Regions from separate parts of the Homo sapiens genome. Here region 2 is linked to region 1. A link means that fine-mapping ties the variant in region 1 to the expression of a gene that starts in the linked region. Tissue or cell type: cerebellar hemisphere. Region 1 holds a variant in brackets; the other region holds the start of a gene. All regions are shown on one strand. Distances are between the middles of the regions.

Region 1 (8,184 bases):
CCCTACCCCACCAGGTCTGATATGCCTTAAGTGTTAATGGTTTGTTGTTTATCTTCTCAGGCTTTTTCTGTTTATATGCAAACGTTTTTATGTGTAAAAAATATGTAAAATTATTTCTACAAAAACAAGGATACATTATTCTGTAACTTACCTTTTAAAACTTAATATGCTATATATAAATTTTATTTTTTTCATGACTCTATTGTTCTAGCATATGGCTACACCATAGCTTATTTAAACAATGTCCTATTGATGCACATTTAAGTTATTTCCAGTGTTTTATTATTACATTGACGTGATAAACATCTTTTTTACAGAGATCTTTTGATATGTTTTCTGGCATTCCTGTCAGCTGAAATACCAGAAGAGGAACATCTGGTTCAAGGAGTATGCACATTTTAAATACTAATAAATATTGCTGGATTGCCCTCTAGAGAAACTGTACTTACACACTCCTACCGGCAAATCATTCAGTCTCAAGGTCTCAGCTTGAGTGTCACCTTCTTAAGGAAACCTGCCTTGTCATCTTTACCCCCAGGCAGTATGGAATGCCCTTCCTTTCTTCTAAAGGAAGAATACTCCCCCCAAAACACTCTGATGTCCTTGAATTTTGGTACTCATCCCACTATTTGAATATTTGTTATATAATCTGTTTCCACCACTGGACTTTGAGTTCTTTGTTTCTCCTTTTACATTTTTTTGTTCCTAGTTTTAAAAGTAACACGTGTTCACTGTATATAATTCCAGCGTCGTGGAACTATCTTACATTAGGGAAGTGTCTATTTTGGATAGTCACCCTGTATCATCCTGTGCACCCCTCTCTCATTACCACTTCCAGCATGGACCATAAAAAACACATACATACTCGCCCACAGGCCTGGGTTCCTGGAGAGAAGGGCTCATGTCTTTTTGATTTTCTATTTTTATTTTATTTCTTAAGAGACAGGGTCTCACTGTAACCCAGGCTGGAGTGCAATGGTGCAGTCACGGTTCACTGCAGCCTCCAACTTTGGGGCTCCAGTGATCCTCCTGTCTCAGCCTCCTGTGCAGCCAGGACTACAGGTATGCACCACTATGCATTTAAAAATTAAGCTAAATTAAAAATAATTTTTTTGTAGAGATGGGATCTTGCTCTGTTGCCCAGGCTGGTCTCAAATTCCTGGGCGCAAGCCATCCTTCCACCTTGGCCTCCCAAAGTGGGATTACAGGTGTGAGCCACTGTGCTCGGCCTATGTCTTTTTATTTTTGTGTTCTAGCACTTAATATGGTAGCTGGTACATTGGACATGCTCAGTAAATGTCACCTCAATGAATGGGAAATAAGCCTCTCCTTAGAAAACATGGTAAGTTACATAAGCACCTGTAATAGGTACTCACATGATTTATGGATTATTTTTGCTTAGCTTTCTTTAAAAAGAGGTGGCTTTGCACAGTCTCCTACACTGCCCTCAACAGAAACTCTAAAGCTGATGAAATTCACCCTCTTCTAAATGATTTCGTTCCATAGCCATTAGGAACTATTTAGTTCCTCTAACAAAGCAAATGCAGGAGCCTGGAAAGCAGTTATTAGCTGAGGTAGATTGGTTTACCGATGTGATTTGTTGCTATGTGTGTTTATTATCCACTGTTTCTGTGCTCATGAAGTCAATATCCCCTGCATTTGCTGAGCCAGGCAATCTGGTGAAATAAGAAGTGAAGCCAGGCACTGTTCAACTCCCGAATCTAGCAACAGCCATAATAATAGCTACCATATATTGAGTGCCTACCATGTATTAGGTATGTTTTACATGCCATTTAATCCTCGTAAAAACCCTATGAAGAAAATATTGTTTTTCTCTAGGTTGCAGATGATATTCAGCCACAGTGAAGTAAACTTTCCAAGGTTACACAGCTATTAAGTGGTAGTGTCTGGCTTTGAATCCAGGTCTTTTTGGCTAAAAGCCATCTGTACTCCCTTTTATTTTATTTTTAAAATTTTGTATTTCCATAGGTTATTGGGGAACAGGTGGTTTTTTAGTGGTGATTAATGAGATGCTGGTGCACCCATCACCCAAGCAGTATATACTGCACCCCATTTGTAGTCTTTTATCCCTCACCCCCTTCCCACCCTTTCCTCCTGAGTCCACAAAGTCCATTTTGTCTTTATTATGCCTTTGCATCCTCATAGCTTAGCTCCCACTTATGAGTGAGAACATCCAATATTTGGTTTTCCATTCCTGAATTATTTCACTTAGAATCATAGTTTCCAGTCCCATCCAGGTTGCTGGAAATGCCATTAATTCATTCTTTTTTATGGCTGAGTAGTATTCCATTGTGTACTCCCTTTTAAATCTTCCTTTCTTATCCTTTAACCTGCCAAATGGGCCTTCTATTATGGAACAGGAAAAGTGGATCATTTGATGGGAAATCTGGAGTCCTTTCTCTTGTTCATCAAGAAAACACTATTCAGATCTCCAAGAAAACACATCATCTTCATTTAACTTTGTTTTATTCTCCCCCTCTAAAATCATAGATCTCTAGAAATGAAAGAGATCAAGTTTACCAGTTCATATTCTCCTGGAGGGGGAGCAGGAGAGCCAATGACAGTATTACCTATTAAATATTTTCATTTTCATCCCAGTAGAGAGTCTCCCAGATTTCACTGCATGAATGAAAAATCTGGAGTTGCTTTGGATTTATATGGGTGCAAAGCTAGAGTCTAATAGAACTAAACACAATATGTAAATTATAATTTAGAATTAGAAACAGAAGGGTAGTCTGGTTCATGGACCCCATGAGGACACCTATATCATCGATTGCCCCAAAGCCATCCTCCGACCTGGAGGCTAAAGAGATCTGGTAGGTTCCTTTTTTTATTACATTCATTCTGTTCCAGGTGGTCAAACATTTCTTTTGTTTTTACTGACCTGTAGAAAAGGAGATGTGTGTCCACAATTTTGCCTACCCCAAGTTTTGGAGGAAATTCTTTGCTTATTACACCTTATCTAACGCCTCCAGTGGGACTTGGGGTTAGCACTTTGCAATGAGACATGTTAATGTGTCTTCAGTAAGACATATTCATATTAGATGGGGATAAGTAAAGATTATGATAACTTCATGTCATTTCAGGTCAGATTTTGCTTCCAAATGATTTGCACACACTTAGGAAAAAAATTTCTGTTTTCAGAACGTTTTGGATTTCAGAATTGCAGATAAAGGATTGTGGACCCATAATTTTCTCCTGTTTTGCACTGGCGGTAGTTTAACTTGTGGACCATCAAAAAAATATGTTTGAGAGAGGACCCTTATCACCTCTTTTGTTTAAAAAGCAAAATAAACTTTGTTTCCACCAAAATGCCTGCCTCCCCGACATTTAGGGGCTGCTGTGGCACCATTCCTGTGTGTGTCCCCTTGGTAGCTTAGTTCCAAGCTTGACAGTTCTCAGGGGTGGGGAGTTCTCTCTGCTCTCCCTTACCCTCACCCCAACCAGTCTCTTCAGCTGCATCCCGTTTCTCCTCTTCTAAGGGATCTGGAGAGTTGCTGGCTTCCATCATCTTCCGTGTGAGGACCGTCACAGCTTGCACTGCTCAGCAGGCAGCTTTTCTGGACACCACACTCTCCCCAAGCCTTTGTTTCTTGATTTTGGGAGCATTCGCCATGGAAACCATTTTGGCTCATCTTATCCCATTCCCAGGTGGTCTCCAAGGCTTTGCCCACACAGTGCCACAATGAAAAATGCAGCCTGGCTCACCGGTTTGCTTTTCACGTTTTCATTGCTTATTTGGCTCATGGCACAATCCCACGGAATCCTCTGCAGAGGGTGGTGTTGCGCCATTCCCTCTGACCCAAGTGTTGGCTCTCACTCTGCTCAGTGTGAGACACACCTTTCACACCCACAGTGATGCCTCACTGCATCCAAAGCCATTCTGAGATTAGCACAGTCTCAGGCCAGATGGTTTGA[T/C]CAATTCCAATTCCTGCTCCCACGTTGGCTCCTTTAGGCCTCGTATGTTCCATTTAGCTGTTGTTTCTCCGGTATATGAAGTACATCAAGCAGTGAGTATCTTCAGCAACTGCCTATACCAGTAAGTATCTGGCTGTCGGTGGTGGTGGCTGTAGTTTGGCAGTACTACCAGCTTCTCCCAGCACCTGGCTTATCAGAATACAGGATTCATGCCATGTGGCTCTTACTTGGGCCAAGAGTCTTCAGTCAGCCCAGTGACTTAAGTTGCCAAGGAAACTGTGTCTAGTGAGACCTCAAGATTTACAACTCATTCCTAGGCTACAAGGTTTTCTCCAGAATTTTTGCTGACACAGTTTATTCCCATAACCTCCCAGCCCTGTGGGGTGTATAAATCTTTGAGCTTCTCTGGAGAATTCACTTTACTGCATGCAAGGCCTAGAATAGGGATCAAAAGAAGTTTGGCTTCAGGGGCCTCATGAACTTGGAAATTGTATGCACTATTTTGTGTGGATGTATGTATGGGCATTTTTTTTATGGGAAGAGGCTTGCACTGGGTGCTCAGCAGCATATTCTGAAACAGTGTAGACTTGGGAAATCTATTTAGTCTTCTGAGCCTCTGGAAAGTGAGGATAATACTAGATTCTGTCCCATTCATTTGTAATGAGGATAAAATGAGAAGTGCATATAAACTGTCTAGTACAGTGTCCATAAATATTCATAAATGTTAGCTATCATTTGACTGTGAGCCTCAAAGGGTTAAGATGATGTGACTGCCTTTCGTTCCTTAGGATTAGGTGGCAGATATAGAATTTGAAATCATTTTCTTTATGCTGCACAGAAAATCTTCACAGTACTGCCTGGTGTGATCTCCTTAGCATCCTTTTTGGTGGGTGGGAAAGAGTGCATGACTATCCTCTTTTACAGGTGAGGAAACTGAGGCTCACCATGATCACCTAGCTAATAAGGCTCCAAAAAAATAGGTCCTGCTCACAATCTGGTGGGACAAACAGATCCTAAGACAAGCAATTACAGACCACGATGAGCACCATCACCCTTGAAGTACAGGATGTTAAAGCATCTACGAAGGTCAGGGCAGGCTTCCTGGGGTGACAATCCGATCCCTGAAATGTGGGTAGGAATAGGTTAGGCAAACGAATGGACTTTGAGAGAGTGTTGCATGTAGAAGGAACAGCATGTGCTGATGCCTCGAGGGAGGGAGCGCTCATGGTTCGGGTGCCTCGCAGCAAGAGGGAGTGGGAGATGAGGCCAGGGGAAAGTTTCTTTTAACCCCTAAAAAAAAGGAGATGAATGTGCAAAGAAAAAGGAAAGGAAGGCCGGGTGCGGTGGCTCATGCCTGTAATCCCAGCACTTTGGGAGGCTGAGGTGGATGGATCACATGAGGTCAGGAGTTCGAGACCAGCCTGGTCAACATGGTGAAACTCCGTCTCTACTAAAAATACAAAAATTAGCCAGGCTTGGTGGCAGGTACCTGTAATCCCAGCTACTAGGGAGGCTGAGGCAGGAGAATCGCTTGAACCTGGGAGGTAGAGGTTGTGGTGAGCCAAGATCGTACCACTGCACTCCAGCCTGGGCGACAGAGCAAGACTGTCTTAAAAAAAAAAAAAAAAAAGGAAAGGAAAGGAATAGTGCAGACAAGTAACTTAAGCTAGGCTGTGTTGGCACACCTGCAAACATGCAGCCATTTAAAATAATTCTGAGGAAGACTAACAACACAGGTCGTGTTTGCTGTGTTAAGTGAGGAAGAGTGTTTATAAAACTGCCCGTGTATCAAGATTGCAGCTGCATAAAAACTAATCCTCAAATGACAGAGACTTACACGGAAGAAGGAAAGTAACTCTTCTGTTAAGGTGATAGATTTTAAAATGTATTTTAATGTCTTATTTTGTAAGTTTTGTTTTAGTTGCTCATTGTTTACAGTGCGTTGCCTGGGAGATCAGGATCCAGAGTTCTGCTGATCCCCCAGCCTCTTCAATTCCGATTCACTCATTTGATTCATTAATTCCTTAGTTCATTTCAGGCTTGCCCTGTTCCAGGCACCATGCTTGAGCCAGCAGGGATCAGTTGTGTCTGCGTGTCCATTACTGACTGGGTCATCTTTCAGAGAGCCCAGCCGCTCTGACTCTCCCAAGACCCATCCCTCCATGGCTACATAAAAACACTTGCTCCCTCACTTGTTCTCAGAGACACCTCTAATTAATACTTTCATTTTGTTCACGTGAGAAGAAGGAAAAGGCAGTACCAGTTGGTGAACATGGCACCTTCCGGGATCTAGAAGGCAGTAAGCAGGGAAATTAAGTAACTGGAGAAGAGACAACCAAAACAACTGGGTGTCAGGCAGACATGTCCGTTTGACCTGGTTTATTACTGCTTAGCGTCTAGTGCTTTTGCAGAATTGCCTGGCATCTTCTAAGCTTTCCACAGGGATCAAAGGCTTTGTTTGCTCCGAATGTTTTCTTAAGCAGTTAGTTGGAAATCTACCTTTTTGTGCATGTCAACGAGAAGAAAGCAGCAAGCTGCCATTAGATTGAGCATCAGCAAGAAACCTTGACCCCTTGGTGCTCTTAGCATGTGTACTGTGCAATTCCAGGGCTCTGAAGGCAGTCTCAGCACACAGGAACAGTTAAACATTTTGTTAATGTGTCTGATTTTTGCTTTAAAATGCTCCAGTACACATACACAGTGTAAGAGAAGAGATGAAATAAGAAGGGTGATGGATACATTAGTTCATTGTACCATTCCCTTTACCTTGTTTGTTTGAAAATCTTCATAAGAAAAAATTAAAATATTTGAAATACTGATAAGAGCAAAATACCAGAAATAAGTGTGAAGAGCCCCATGTGACAGTAACCCCTCTCATCCCTTTGGAGATGGCCAGCCCTAGATGCTGGGCCCTCCCTCCCCTGGACCCTCCACTTCAGTGGAGTGGGAGTTGATGAGTCAGGGAAGGAGAAGTGGCAGCTGCCTAGGGACACTGGACTCTCTACTGCTCTCTGAAGTGTGGTTTCAGGAGCTGCAGACTTCCCAAGGCCCCGGAGCAGTTAGTTCATCCTTTGCTTTCCATGATCATCTCTGAGTGTGTGTCTGGTTAGAGGTTAGGAAATTGTCAGTCTGTGCATTCAGTACGGACCGAGCACTGTTCTAGATGCTGAGGATACAGAGTGAGGTTTCTGCTCAGGTTGAGGGTACATTCTGCTGGGGGAACTTGACAATCAACATGGATGCTTGTCATTGAGCAAGACCATTTCAGTGCTATGAAGAAAATCACATAGGATGATACGAAGGTCAGGGAAGACGTGAGAGCCACTTTAGGTCAGGTGATTGGAGGAAACTCCTCTGAAGAGGCACTATTTGGGGTGACTCACAAAGGATGAGAAAGACGTAGCTGCTGTGCCTAAGGGGACAACTTTCCAAACAGAACCGCAGAGCCAGGAAGCAACCTTGGCAAGGCGGAAAACCAGAATGCGAGTGCCTGAAAGTTGAGTGTGTGGACCCTGATTCTGGTGGCTTTCTTCCTTTTCTTTACTCCCTTCTCTCCTTATTCATTTTAAAATTTGTTTCTTCCCAGAAATCTCCCATCTCTCTGGGTTCCATTTTCCAGTCATTTGTAGCTCCCCTCCCAGCCCCCGCAGATGTTCTATATTGACTTTTGGTTGAGGGGCCCTATACGGCTGAAATGAGAGCAGGCTCACAATAATGGGAAGATTTGTACAAATTAGAGTTGTAACACACTGCCAAGCAGTGCTTTCTTTGCTTTGGAAATGAATCTGAAGTCAGCCGAAAGCCCGTTAAAACCCACATCCAAATCTTCTACTATGTTTCACAAGTTGCATCAGAGATGTTTAGTTATAAAAGGAAACTTAGAAATTATGTAGTAATGAGGTATTGGTTTTGGCTCATCTGATTGTTAATTTTTTTAAAATGGCATTCCTTGTACGAGGGAGAGAACGAGAAGAGTACAAGCTGGTATTGGCCTTAAAAAATATACGTGCCCCTTCATCAAGAAATTCCATCTCTAGGAGTTTATTCTAAGAAAACAATCATGAAAATTGCAAAGATTTGTCTACAAAAATCTTCGACCAGTGTACATAATAGTTAAATGGAAAGTGATCTAAAAGTTGAACAATAGAAAACTGGTTAAATGAATTGTGGTACATCGCTTTGATAGAGTACTCTGTAGCCATTTAAAATGATATTGTAAAGTTAATGGCCTGGAAAGCTGTTTAC
Region 2 (8,184 bases), 100 kb after region 1:
TATAGACATGAGCTACCACACAGCCTACATGAATCTTACTGCAAGTAATTTTTTGTGGCTTGCTTTTTTTGTTTCTCAGTATTGTTTGTGAAATTTGTCCATATTGATTTTTTTTTTTAGCTGGAGTTTGGTCTGTGGCTTATTTTTTTACTTTATTGTTTATTTTCATAAGCAGAAGTTTAATTTTTTTAATGTCAAACCTTTGTGGTTTATGCTTTTTGTGTCTTGTTTTTTTTTTTACTTGAGATGATAATAATGATATTCTTTCATTTTCTTCTGACAATTTTAAGTTGTGTTTTTTCCACTTTAAGTCTTTAATCTGTTTTTTTTTTTTAATTTTTAATTTTTTTAGAGACAGGTCTTGCTCTGTTGCCCAGGCTGAATTCCTGGCCTCAAGTGAACCTCTTGCTTCAGCCTCCTGAACAGCTGGGATTACAGGTGCAAGCCACCATGTCCAGCTAATTTTTTTTCTTTATTTTTCCTTTATCTGGTATTGGTTTTTGTTTATGCTGTGAGGTAGAGATCAATTTTATTTTCATCCAAGTGAAAAGGTAGATCATGCCACTCCTTTGCTCAAAAATTTCCAAATCTTCCCATATTCCCCAAAATTAAAGTTCTTTCTTTTCTTTTTTTTTTTTCTTTGAGTCAGAGTTTTGCTTTTGTTGCCCAGGCTGGAGTGCAATGGCATGATCTTGGCTCACTACAACCTCTGCCTCCTGAGTTCAAGCGATTCTCCTGTCTCAGACTCCTGAGTAGCTGGGATTACAGGCATGCGCCACCATGTCCGGCTAATTTTGTATTTTTGGTAGAAACAGATTTTCTCCATGTTGGTCAGGCTGATCTTGAACTGCTGACCTCAGGTGATCGGCCCACCTCAGCCTCCTGAAGTGCTGGGATTACAGGCGTGAGCCACCACGCCCTGCCTAAAATTAAAGTTCTTAAAATAGAATGAAAGTCCATATATGATCTGGCCCTCTGAAATGTCTCTGACCTCATCTCTTTCCAGTGAACACTGGCCTCCTTGCTCTTCCTTGAACACTCCCGAAATGTTCAGGGCCCTTGACTTTCTGTTTGTCTGCTGGAAATTTTCAATGTCTATACTTCTGGCTTCCTCATTTCCCAAGTCTCTGCTCAAGGTCACCTTATCATGGAGGACTTCTCTAGCCACCCTAGCTAAAATCTCCCTCCAACACACACACACACACACACACACACACACACACACCCCAGCGTTTGGTATTTCTCTTCTTTCAAAGAACTTACCTGAAAAACTCTCTGGGTCTAGTATAGTTGTGTGTTGGGGTAGTGGTAGATGGGTATTTTTAAAAGTGTTGATTTAATTTTTTGAATGGCTTAAGGACTACATGGGACTTTCAATTTCTTCTTAAGTTAGTTTTAACCCTTTCTCTACAAAAAAATATATTTTTAAAATTAGCCAGAAATGGTGGCACACACCTGTAGTTCTAGCTACTTGGGAAACTGAAGTGGGAGGATCCCTTGAGACCAAGAATTTGAGGCTGCAGTGAGCTATGATTGTGCCACTGCACCCCAGCCTGGGCAACAGATACCCTATCTCTAAAAAACATTTTTTAAAAAATTTTACTTTCTGAATAGTTAATATATGCCCACAGTATAAACATTCAAGTTTCAAAAGTATACACAGTGAAAATTAGATCTCTCTCCATCTCTGCCTTCTAGCTACCTGGTTCCCCTCTCTTGGCATCAATTTCTTGTCTGTTTCCCTAGTTTCTTATTTATCCTCCCAGATATATGTCGTGCATGTAGAAGCACATAACATATATTGTTTTTACATAAATGGTGGAATGCCATATATATTATCCTGCACATTGCTTTTTTTCCACTGAACCATGTATGTTAGATTTGCTTCCAAAGCTATTCATAGAGGGCTGCCTCATTTCTATTCCAGTTACCTAATATTCTATTGGATGATGTACCATCATTTATTTACTTAGTCTCCTTCTGAAGGATAATTAGGCTATTCTGTCTTTACAGTGGCCTTCTAAGAAGCCAGTGTGTTTTGCCCATCTTCAATCGCTGCTTCACCCTGATGTCAGATATACCTTCTCCTTAAACTTCCATTCCCATGCTATCATTTCCCTGTTCAAGAATTTCCAACAGCTACCCAGTTCCCACAGAATAAGGCTGAACTTCTTACCCTTGAACGAAGATTCTGCATGGTCTCTGCCTTCTTTTCCATCATGTCTTCCTGTTCCTGAGGACACTCCCCAAAACTGATGACTTGAGGTTTTCCCAAATGTACCTCTGATTTTAGGGGCTCCAAAGTTTTCTTCAGCCTGCTCTACCGTCCCCTTTGAACCCTATGAGGGAAATCCTTCCCTCCCCCTGGACTGGTCACACTGGGCTCCAGGTCCTCTCTGGAACAGCTGCACTTTAAATATTTCAGCCCAGTCTCCCACTGTACACCCTACAGAGCCAGAACAGGTGTTTTGAATTTTGTTTGGGGTTACTGATATTTAAATTGTTCACCAATGGTCCTTCCTCTTCTAAACTCCAAATTCCTTGTGGGCAGGGACTGATGACTGGGAATGGGGAATACTAAAATGAAAAGATATCCTGACTTCCAAGTAGCTTAAAACATAAAGGTAAGCTGGGCACAGTGGCTCACGCCTGTAATCCCAGCACTTTGGGAGGCTAGGGCAGGTGGATCACGAGGTCGGGAGATCGAGACCATCCTGGCTAACATGGTGAAATCCCGTCTCTACTAAAAATACAAAAAAATTTAGCTGGGTGTGGTGGCAGGCGCCTGTAGTCCCAGCTACTTGGGAGGCTGAGGCAGGAGAATGGCGTGAACCCGGGAGGCGGAGCTTGCAGTGAGCCGAGATTGCGCCACTGCACTCCAGCCTGGGTGACAGAGCGAGACTCAGTCTCAAAAAAAAAAAAAAAAGAAAGAAACATAAAGGTGAGCCAGATATGCAAAATTAAAATACACAACACAGTAGGATCTTAGTTTAAGTGGAAGTATGCTCTATGCTCAGGGCAATCATGGTCGGGGGGAGTTTTTATTTTATTTCATTTTTTTACTTTAAATCTCTGGTCTCTAGTCCAGCGTCTGGTACATGGCAGCTGCCCAGTAAGTGCCTGTTGAATGGAGAATAACATAAAAAGAGGCATTTAAGGCAAGTGTCAACTTCTTGCAGTAACAGTCACCTTTTATATATAAAATAAGTCAACAGATAGTGTAGTGTGGATGTCGCTTATCTTTTGGGGAGAAAGAGGGCTGTGTGGGAGGGGATGGAATCAACTTTCAGCCAGGGAGGGAGGCGAAGACATTGCCTCCCGGGTCGGGGGTGGGTGGGGGGTCCAGGCGGCTGCGGGGCGCGGGAGAGGCGGGGAGAAGGGAAGGGGGAGGAGACTCTCGCCTCCTGCCCCGCCTCCCCCACCCCGCGGCGGCGGCGGCGCAGGGCGGCCGCGCGGGTGTTGGCACCAGAGGCAACAGCTGCAGCAGCCGCGCCGCCCCCTCGCCCGCGGCTCCCAGGGTGATCCCGAGCACAGCCGGTGGCTCGCGGCGCGGCAGCCCCAGAAGACGGGAAAGTTCGCGGCCGGAGCGCGGAGATGCCGGGCAGCGACACGGCGCTCACCGTGGACCGGACCTACTCGTACCCCGGCCGGCACCACCGCTGCAAGAGCCGGGTGAGCGCAGCGGGCTGGGGGGCGGCGGGTGCGCGCGGGCCCGGGGGCGAGGCGGGCTGGGGCGGCGGCTCAGTGCTAACCCACGCGCCCCCGGCGTTTCGCCGCCGCCCTCCGCTGCCGCCGGAGGTCCGTGCCTCCCCGATCCTCCGAGCTAAAAGGGTGGGCGTCGGGGGCGTCGGAGCCCAGGCTGCGGTTCTGGGATCCCAGGTCCGCCTGCCCCTCACGGCGCCCAGGTCCCCGCGCGCTATGCGGGACGCCCGGTTCCCCGACGGCCCGCGCTCTGCTGTCCTCCCCGCCAGGGAGCGCCCGCCGCTCCGCGAGGGAATCCCGCCACCCGGCCACCCGCGGCCCCGCGTCTCCAGGTCTCCGGGGTCTCGCCCTGGGTGTGACGGTGCCCTCCCCGCCGAACGTCCCGGCGGCCGCCCTGTCTCCCTGTCCTCGGGGCGTGTGGCCGGAACCCGAGCGCGGTGCGCAGCCGGAGCGCGGGGAGGCGGCGGACGGGCTCTGCCCAAGTGAAAAGTCAGAATCTTTGCGCTGCCTCTCCGGAGTTTCGAGCCGAGCCGAGCAGGCGCCCTCGCCATTGTTTGCAGTGTAATTTGCTGTTGCTGATTTTGGCTGTGGGCGAAAATAGCTCATTCTGAGCCTGCTGCAGAGACGAGCCCTGTAGGGCTTCAAAATAAAGACGGAGGCCGCAGCCCAAGCGCGGGTCTGTCCTGGGAGAGGAAGCCTTCGCCCTCCCCGGTGAATACCTTTGCCCTCCCGGGCTGTTGAATCGTCGAGGCTGGATGTGAGGCTCTGTAACCCGTTCTCCCCAGGGCTGATTGAAGTGCCATTTAACAAAGCACCTCCTCCACGCTGGCATCTGTTCTGGCAGGAGGCACCTGGAGTTGTTCTTTGCTCCGCCAACTACTTACTCGCTTGTCCGAGAACTGGGGATTTGGGTGTCAGCCTCTGTGTAAAGTTCACGGAGGGAGAGCCGGGCTCAGATTCTGGCCTGCCACTTCCAAGATCGAGAGACCAACTGGATGGAAATAGTAGCAATAGTGACGGGGTTGTGTCGCGGCCCTTTGTGCAGGATTTTGGTCTTCACTCATAATTTGAAGTAGTAATCGATTGCCCCAGAAGTGAAGCAATGAGTCTCTGGTTTATTTGCCCGCTTTCCCTTTTTCCTTTAGCATCTGTTAATCATTTTGGAAGGATGATTTGAGTTTTTACAGATTGAATATATTTGGTGGAATAATACCTCATGCACTCATCTCAATCTTACAATTCTCTTGTTTTTGCACTTTGTGTATAAGTTTCGTAACAGTTTGCTGTGAAAATAACCAGAAACTCCATTTGGAATAAACATTGAAGAAATGTGCTTACCCACAGGTAGACATTTCTTCTTGGATAGCTGTAATGCTAGTTAACAGAACTATGAAGAAAAGGAGATCATCTTCGAATGCATTTGTAATTGAGAGGATTCTGTAAAGTTAATATTGCAGACTTGAAATGTGAAAGCTTGTTTTTTCTTGTCACAACTGTGATCTTCTTTGTGTAAACAAGATTAGTAATCTTAGCGGGATGGATGGCTCATTGTCAACTCATTTAAGTGGTTTGGCAAAACTCATGCAACTTTACAAAACTCACTCTTCATAACCTGTAAAATGGTGGTGATAAAGTTTGTGCCTCAACTGCTTAGGTGGAATGTGGTAAAGCAATTGTGTAAGGTAACTGCAGAGTGTTTCTGCCGCATCTGCCACTGTTGCCTGTCTACGCCAGTCTTTTCTATTAAAAGGTCAAAACCTTATGTGATTTCTTGATTTTCTTTAAAATTCTGCTGACGGGCCGGGGGCGGTGGCTCATGCCTGTAATCCCACCACTTTGAGAGGCCGAGATAGGTGGATCACCAGGTCAGGAGTTCAAGACCAGCCTGGCCGAGATGGTGAAACCCTGTCTCTACTAAAAATACAAAAATTAGCCGGGCGTGGTGGTGGGCGCCTGTAATCCCAGCTACTCGGGAGGGTGAGGCGGAGAATCACTTGAACCCGGGAGGCGGAGGTTGCAGTGAACCGAGATCGCGTCAGCCTGGGCACAGAGCGAGACTCTGTCTTTAAATAAATAAATAAATAAATAAATAAATAAATAAAACAATTCTACTGACAATGTTATTGTACCTGCTGCCTTGTATTGTTAGCATGGAGATACCCGATTTTTAAATAAGCTGTGTATTAAAACTGAGTTAGACATTATATGTGCGGATTATCGTAAATTAGCACATTGGGCCAGTCAGATCTAGTGAAGAGAGGAAATCAGAGAAGGGCTAGAACTTCAGCAGACCGTAATCACAAATTCTACTACAGTGATGCTGGACTTCTTGAGGTCCCAGTTGAAACTTCTCAGCTATCTGCTTTTAGGTTTTTTATTGTTGAGACAGCGAGGAATAGGTAGAACTAGTGAAATTTTTGTAAACTCATAATAATAACTTTTCTCAAGCAGGGTTGATGTAATTTCAAGTCTGTCCTGAGGCTACAATAAGTCTGTTGTAATGAAGGGAAAGCAACAATTTTACTGTGCAGAAAGTATTCATCCATTTAAATGATCGTAGCTCCTGTATTGTGGAACTCACTTGGATGCAGCTGTAAAGATATGTTTTCCTGACACCCAGAACGTATGTGATGCGAGAGGAAGACATCGAGTGCTAATTTCTTGATGTCACCATCTCCTTGGGAGGAAACTAGTATAGGATTTAAAAAGAACCCTTTTATGAACTCATTTGGTGAATTAGCTCCCCTAAAAATGCCAATGAGAACTAGGGGGTCATGGGAAGAGTCGACTAATCTTTCAGGGATATGGAGTTTCTGCCTAGAAGTGGGCAAAGACTCCATGAGATGAAGTTCTTAGTTACTGAATGGTCATTTTTTAAATTCAAAATCAATACCTGTTGAGATAACAGGGAAACTACATGGTCTGTCTTGCTGGGCTTATTTCAGCCTTTGAGACTGGAATAATAATGAGGCAGTGTACTCTTTCAACATTGCAGAAATCTATTTTTACATCTAGGTGGACTGACCTAGATAACCCCTCCCCCCTTAGTGAAAATGTAAGTAATGAATTCTGTGATTGTTGCTAAGCTGACAAGTCAGGATCATTCACATTTTAAAACTTCATCTTTGTAAAACTCAGAAATGGTGCTTGTTAACTTGATGCACATATCTCTCTACTTTAGAAGAAAGAGCATCCATAATTAGACTCCTACTTTTTTTTCATGCCCTAGATAGTTAAAGCCTATCATCTTTTTAAGAATACAGGCCGTCTGCTTTCTATACAGTAACTGGCTTTTATTAATGATGTGTGAATTAGGTTTTCTTTTAGTTGGTTTTCATTTTAAGTGTTCTAAAATGCCCTCTCCAGCCACTTGAGTATAGTGGTGGACAGCTGGGGCTCTGGACCTACGTGGGTTGTATTCTGGCTCTTCGAGCTTCTTAACTGGGTGACCACTGGGGCAAGGTCCTAAATAGCCTTTCTGAGCCTCCAGTTTCCCATCTGTAAAAGAGGTAATACTCCACTCTTCTGGGAGTGATTGTGTGTCTTAAATAAGAAAGTATTTGTTTTTTAAAAAAAAAAAAAAAAGCCAGGCACGGTGGCTCACGCCTGTAATCCCAGGACTTTGGGAGGCCGAGGCAGGTGGATCACCTGAGGTCAGGAGTTCAAGACCAACCTGGCCAACATGTTGAAACCCTGTCTCTACTAAAAATACAAAAATTAACCAGGCATGGTGGCAGGTGCCTGTAATCCCAGCTACTCGGAAGGCTGAGGCAGGAGAATCTCTTGAACCCGGGAGGCGGAGATTGCAGAGAGCTGAGATCGTGCCATTGCACTCCAGCCTGGGGGACAAGAGTGAGACTTCCTCTCAAAAAAAAAAAAAAAAAAAAAAAAGGTGTGTGCTTTCAAATATTAGCTATTTAAAAAAATTTTTTTAAATTTATGTTCTCTCACTGGGTGAAAAAGCTGTATTTGTCTATATGTCAGGTTAATAATTTTTTTCTATTTTGTTGGTGCCACTACTAATCAGAACTGCTAGTCATCTTGAGTGCCTGCCCTCCCCCATCTCTCTAACCTATTAGCAATACCACCGCACCTTTCTCTGACATTTCTCTGGAATTGGTTTCTTCCATATCTCCCAATCATCCCCCACCTTAGTCACTTATGACCTTCACCAACTTCTGTTCCATCCTGCATGCAAGGACCATATTATTTTCCCTACAGAACCATTTGCATTAGGATAGTCCCCAGAATACAGATCTTGTACCAGTGCTGTTTGCTACCAGTGTAATCTTGGATCCTGTAATCACTCTAAGCCTTAGTTCCTACTTCTACATAATAGGGGTGTTTTGAGGAATAAATTCAGTAATGTCTATAAAATGTTTAACTCCATGCCGGGTGCACAATAAGAAATCAATAGATGTTAACCACTTTTACTATAGGCCGAGCATCTCAATCCAAAAGCCAAAATCCAAAACTTTTTGA

The links. PIP is the estimated chance that this variant, and not a neighbour inherited with it, causes the effect.
Region 2: it holds the start of TMCC3, and the variant in region 1 is fine-mapped to the expression of TMCC3 in cerebellar hemisphere (GTEx, PIP above 0.99). The same link has a PIP of 0.9 or more in cerebellum.

What each region holds. Positions count from the first base shown.
Region 1 is chr12:94,749,229-94,757,412 of GRCh38, reverse strand. No RefSeq gene overlaps it. Among named protein-coding and RNA genes, the nearest start is that of MIR492, 81 kb to the left of the region's middle. The variant T/C (reference allele first, on the strand shown) is at 3,940.
Region 2 is chr12:94,645,841-94,654,024 of GRCh38, reverse strand. TMCC3 (transmembrane and coiled-coil domain family 3) reads left to right here and starts at 3,468. Exons shown (of 4, transcript NM_020698.4): 1 at 3,468-3,672. The coding sequence starts at 3,595. LOC105369914 (a long non-coding RNA gene) reads right to left here and starts at 7,587. Exons shown (of 2, transcript XR_945225.4): 1 at 4,422-7,587; 2 at 3,023-3,120. RefSeq lists silencers at 3,345-3,514, 3,535-4,004, 4,095-4,224 and an enhancer at 3,301-4,016.